2 separate regions of the Homo sapiens genome follow, and region 1 is linked to region 2. Evidence: fine-mapped expression QTL. A gene starts in region 2. The other region holds a variant in brackets. All regions are shown on one strand. Distances are between the middles of the regions. Region 1 overlaps PCBP1-AS1 (PCBP1 antisense RNA 1). Region 2 holds the start of TIA1 (TIA1 cytotoxic granule associated RNA binding protein).

Region 1 (2,915 bases), 230 kb after region 2:
TAACCTATTGAACATATGCATTGCCTCATATACTTCCCATTTTTTTGTGATAAGACCACTTAATTTATTCTCAGCAATTTTCAAATATACAATATATTGTTACTAACTGTAGTCAGCATGATGTACAGTGGATCTCTTGAACTTGTTCCTCCTGTCTAACAAATTTTGTGTCCTTTGACCAACATCCTTCCAATCTCCCCACCCGCCACCCTCTGGTAACCACCATTTTACTCTCTATTTCTATGAGTTCAACTATTTTATACTCCATATATAAGTGAGGTCATGTGGTACTTGTCTTTCTGTACCTGGCTTATTTCACTTGACATAGTATCCTCCAGGTTCACTCATGTTGTCACAAACGACAGGATTTCCTTCCTTTTAAAGGATGAATGGTACTCCATTGTGTATATGTACCACATTTTCTTTATCCATTCATCTGCTGATGGACACTTACATTGATTTTATATCTTGGCTATTGTGAATAATGCTGTAATGAATATGGGAGTGTGAATATCTCTTCAACATACTGATTTCATTTCCCTTAGATATATGCCCAGTAGTGGTATTGCTGGATCATATGGTAGTTCTACTTTTAAATTTTTGAGGAACCACCATAGTGTTTTCCTTAATGGCTGTACTAATTCACATTTGCGTCAGTAATGTGCAAAGGTTTCCTTTTCTCAACATCCTTGCCAATGCTTGTCATCTTTCCTCTTTTTTGCAATAGCCATTCTAACAAGAGTGAGGTGATATGTCATTGTTTTGAATTGCATTTCTCTGGTGATTAGTGCAGTTCAGCACCTTTTCAGATTCCTGTTGGCCATTTGTATGTCGTATTTTGGGAAATGTCTGTTCAAGTCCTTTGATCATTTTAAAACTCTGGTTATTTGTTTTCTTCCTACTGAGTTGTTTGAGTTTCTTATCTACACTTTAGATCATAACAACCCCTTCTCAGATACATGGTTTGCAAATGTATTCTCTCACTCTGTAAGTTCTCTCTTCACTGTATTGTTTCCTTTACTGTGTGGAAGGGTTTCAGTTTGATGTAATCCTATTTTGCTTTTGTTGCCTGAGCTTTTGGAGTCATATCCAAAATTTTTGCCCAGACCAATGTCATGAAGCTTTTTCCCTATGCTTTCTTCTAGTAGTGTTACAGTTTCAGGTCTTATGTTTGTCTTTAATCCACTTTTATTTGATTTTTGTATATGGTGTGAAATGAACATCTAATTTCATTCTTCTGTATTTGAATATCCAGTTTTTCCAGCACCATTTATTGAGTAGGCTGTCCTTTCCCCAGTGTGTGTTCTTGGGACCTTTGTTGAAAATCAGTTGACTGTAAATACATAGATTTAT[T/G]TCTGGGTTCTTTATTTTGTTCCTTTAGTCTATGTGTCTGTTTTTTGGTGGTACCATGCTGTTTTGGTTACTACAGCTTTGTAGTATATTTTGGAGACAGACAGTATGATACCTCTAGCCTTGTTCTTTTTGCTGCAGATTGCTTTGGCTATTTGGGGTCTTTTGTGGTTCCATAGGAATTTCAGAGTTGTTTTTTCAATTTTTGTGAAGAATTTTATTAGTATTTTGATAGAGATTGCTTTGAATCTGTAGGTCATTTTGGGTAGTATGAGCATTTTAATATTAATTCTTCCAAACCGTGGACACAGCATATCTTTCCATGTTTTGTGTGTGTCCTCTTCAGTTTCTTTCGTCAGTGTTTCAACAGTGTTTTCCATGTACAGATCTTTCATTTCCTTGATTAAATTTATTCCTAAGTATTTTTTATTCATTTATTTTATTTTATTTTATTTTATTTTATTTATTTATTTATTTTTGAGGTGGAGTCTCACTCTGTAGCCCAAGCTGGAGTGGCGTGATCTCGACTCACTGCAACCTCCGCCTCCTGGGATCAAGTGATTCTCGTGCCTCAGCCTCCTGAGTAGCCGGGACTACAGGTACGCACTATGACACCTGGCTAATTTTTTGTATTTTAGTAGAGATGGGGTTTCACCATGTTGCCCAGTGTGGTCTCAAATTCCTGAGCTCAGGCGATCCTCCCACCTTGGCCTCCCAAAGTGCTGGGATTGCAGGTGCGAGCCACTGCGCCCAGCCTATTCCGAAGTATTTTTAAATAGCTATTGTAAATGAGATTGTTTTCTTCATTTTTTTGATAGTTCGTTGTTATTGTATATAAACACTACTGAATTTTGCATGTTGATTTTGTTTCTTTTTTTTAAAAAAATACTAACAGACAAGCAAATGCATGTTGATTTTGTATCCTGCAACTTTACTGAATATGTTTATCAGTTCTAACAGTTTTTTGGTGAGTCTTTACTATTGTCTATCTAAAGATCATGTCATCAACAGACAGACAATTTAACTTTTTCCTTTGCGATTTGGACAAATTTTATTTCTTTCTCTTGACTAATTGTTCTGGCTAGGATTTCCAATACTGTTTTCAATAGAAGTGTCTGAAATAAGCATTCTTGTCTTATTACTAATCTTACGAAAAAAACTTTCAATTTTCACTATTCAATATGATGTTAGCTGTGGGCTTATCGTACATGACCCTTACTGTGTTGAGGTCCATTCCTTCTGTGCCTAATTTATTGAGAGTTTTTAATCATGAAAGGATGTTTAATTTTGTTGAATACCTTTCTCCATCAATTGAGATGATCAGGTTGGGCGTGGTGGCTCACGCCTGTAATCCCAGCACTTTGGGAGGCTGAGGTGGGCAGATCACAAGATCAGGAGATGGAGACCATCCTGGCTAACATGGTGAAACCCTGTCTCTACTAAAAATACAAAAAAATTAGCCAGGCATGGTGGTGGGCACCTGTAGTCCCAGCTACTTGGGAGGCTGAGGCAGGAGAATGGCATGAACCCGGGAGGCGGAGCTTGCAGTGATCTGAGATCACGCC
Region 2 (2,915 bases):
ATATATAATAAGCAATGTGAAATGCATACAGAGTATACTGAATCACATTTCAGAGCTCTAATTTCTCTGCCTCCTAAAGTTGGACTGAAGTTTATGTATCTTTTGACTTGTTTACTTTTAAGATTCTTGTGACCAATTTGCATTAAATAGCTGGGGTTTTTTGTTTGTTTCTTTGTTTGTTTTTTGAGACGGATCCTCGTTCTGTTGCCCAGGCTGGAGTGCAATGGCAAGATCTCGGCTCACTGCAATCTCCACCTCCCAGATTCAAGGATTCTCCTGCCTCAGCCTCCTGAGTAGTTGGGATTACGGGCCCCCACCACCACATCCAGCTAATTTTTGTATTTTTAGTAGAGACAGGGTTTCGCCATGTTGGTCAGGCTGGTCTCGAACTCCTGATCTCAGGTGATCCGCCCGCCTCAGCCATCCAAAGTGCTGGAATAACAGGCGTGAGCCACTGCCCCCGGCCTAAACAGCTATTTCTTAAATGCTTTTCAATGTGCAATCAATACACGGAAGAAATGCAAATATAAATAAAAATCTGGCATCTGGAAATATCCTCCCCGCGCTGAAAAATCTGGCTAGCACCAACGACGCAAATTCTTAATAAAATCCTTACTTTTTTAAGTAAAACTTTTTTTCTTTTTTCTTATTTCTTAAGTAAACATTTTAAATTGAAATTTTTTTTCTGTACAGAGAAAGTTGAAACATCCATTCCTATGTTTGGGATGAGAAAAGATAAATTATTTATGTTATTGGAAAACAGAAGATTACAGACTGTCAATAAACTTTTACTTTTAAATGAATAAATAATACATGACAATTCTTTTCACATGAGAGAACGTCTGCTTCTATTTCCTCCTAAAATACTGTGGCGGCTGGGCATGTCAACAGCGCCGCTGGTGTAGTGGTATCATGCAAGATTCCCATTCTTGCGACCCGGGTTCGATTCCCGGGCGGCGCATAGGCGTTTTGCTTCTCGCTCGCTAAAAACCAGATAGCTTGAAGAGTCTTTATATATCTTTCCAAAAGAGGAAAGATTTAGGCTTTTTACTGTCCCTGAAGGTTTCCACTCCCTCATAATTCGCGGTCGAAACACTCGAATCCGCAGCCAGAAGACAAAAAAGTTCACGCAAATCGTGAAGTAGTTAATACTTGCGCCTGCGCAGTCTGAGGCGTCCCTCGCGTCGGGTGGAAGAGCGGCTGCGCAACAAGTGAACCTATGGATTAAGGTGTAGCCGGGCGGCCCGGAGGTTGAGAGTGCAAGATTATTCTGCGCCTGCGCGGCCCGGGTAACTTTGCTGGCTGCTCCTAGGCTCCCGGCTCGCCGCCATCTTGTATTGGGGTTTCATTGTTCCCGCTGGGCCGGGCGGTTTAGTGTAATTGCCGCCGGAGGAGGAGGCGGAGTAACCTCTGGTCAGCCGAGAAACCCCACTATCCTGTAGCCATAACCGCTTAAACGATTTGGGAGGTAGTGAAGGGCAGGGAGCTGGACCTGGAGGCGCCGCCGCGACAGCAGCAGCCATGGAGGACGAGATGCCCAAGACTCTGTGAGTCTGGGGCAGCGATGAGGGAGGCGGGATGGTGGTCGTCCCGGAGGGAAGGCCTCGGCCCTGCGCCGCTCCCAGCCTATTGTTCTCCGTGGACACCGCGATATCGTGGTTTTTGTTTCCTTAGCATGCACCTGGATGCTTACAACCAAGACCCAATCTGTGAGGACGAGGTGAAGGGAGACGGGGCTCAACCCTCTCAATTAATCCCTTCACTTTAGCAACACCATTGCATGACCTTTGCTCTCGCCACGGGCCCTCTGTGGTCTTAGACCTGGAGAAAAGACTTTAATTCAGACCTCTTTTTAGAACTCGTCGAACCTTCCTTTTGTCCTATGCTTTCTTTCCTTTTCCCGCTTCTCCCCCTTTTTGATTAACCTCTTCTTATCTTTACAGCCGTCTCCCTTTAATTTTACTTTTGATTTCCTACTGAAATTCTTCCTTTCATTTTCTTCTCGGTGATAAGATTTTTTTTCCTCCTCGAGGGTGCTTGTACTCATTTTCAGTGCAGTAAACTTTATTCTTGCAGTTGCCAATTGGAAAAAAGCCAAGCATTTTTCTTTAACCTCTGGCTTTCCTTCTGTAGCACCCACCGACCAAAAAGCCTAACCAGACACCCCAAGGATTTGGAAATCTCACCCAGAAGGAATATATCAATTGAGGGGAAATGGATTTAATATTATTTTTATAGTCGTTTACTACTGTTGTGATTGACATGGTGTTGAACGAGCGGGCTGTAAATGCCCTAACATATTTACAGAGAATTTTTAGAGATAGCGTTAAATTACCGGAGCGTGGATATTTTCTTTGTCGTGTGGCTTCCCCAACTGCGTTCTTTGTTTTTCGAGGTATTATCGGATGAGTTGATCCTGCCTTTGTTGGCATTTCTCGGAAGAAGAAAAGCTCAATGAGTTCTTGACATAGCTTTTTGTTTTTCTTGGATGACATAGCTTTTTGTTTATATTCTTGGAATACTGGCAGTTTGAGAGCTCCATGCATTAAAAATGCAATTTTAGGTTTCTCTTTGCAGCTCTCTAATAAAGTTGCTCTGAAGTACGATGTAATTGTTTTTTTACCTCCAAAATTTTTCCACTTTTAAGTTGCTATTTCTTGTCTATATTGGAAATGTGGTTACACTTGTTTTCTTAATAGATTGTCAGTTAATCTGTTAGTAACCTTGAAATTTCTTTTCTCTATTCCTGAGGCTCAGAAAGTATCTTTTCAGTAGGACGTAGCAATTAGTGCATGACCTTTGTTTTAGGAAAGATTGTATCTGTAGATGAATACTCCCTAAAAAACTACTAGCCTCACGGTGTTGGTGGAATCTCTTCCCTCTTGCCTCTTAGCTATGACAGTCATCAGCATTTT

Evidence for each region. PIP is the estimated chance that this variant, and not a neighbour inherited with it, causes the effect. A credible set is the group of variants that fine-mapping cannot tell apart.
Region 1: its variant is the best candidate, but not a certain one, in a credible set for the expression of TIA1 in whole blood (TOPMed, PIP 0.71).

Annotation. Positions count from the first base shown.
Region 1 is chr2:70,017,049-70,019,963 of GRCh38, reverse strand. The region is part of intron 7 of PCBP1-AS1 (PCBP1 antisense RNA 1); the gene reads left to right. It also overlaps a transcript of ASPRV1 not described here. Among named protein-coding and RNA genes, the nearest start is that of ASPRV1, 57 kb to the right of the region's middle. The variant T/G (reference allele first, on the strand shown) is at 1,354.
Region 2 is chr2:70,247,037-70,249,951 of GRCh38, reverse strand. TIA1 (TIA1 cytotoxic granule associated RNA binding protein) reads left to right here and starts at 1,324. Exons shown (of 13, transcript NM_022173.4): 1 at 1,324-1,547. The coding sequence starts at 1,522. It overlaps TRG-CCC2-1 (tRNA-Gly (anticodon CCC) 2-1), which reads left to right and starts at 891; the gene lies at 891-961. RefSeq lists enhancers at 928-1,742, 1,743-2,558.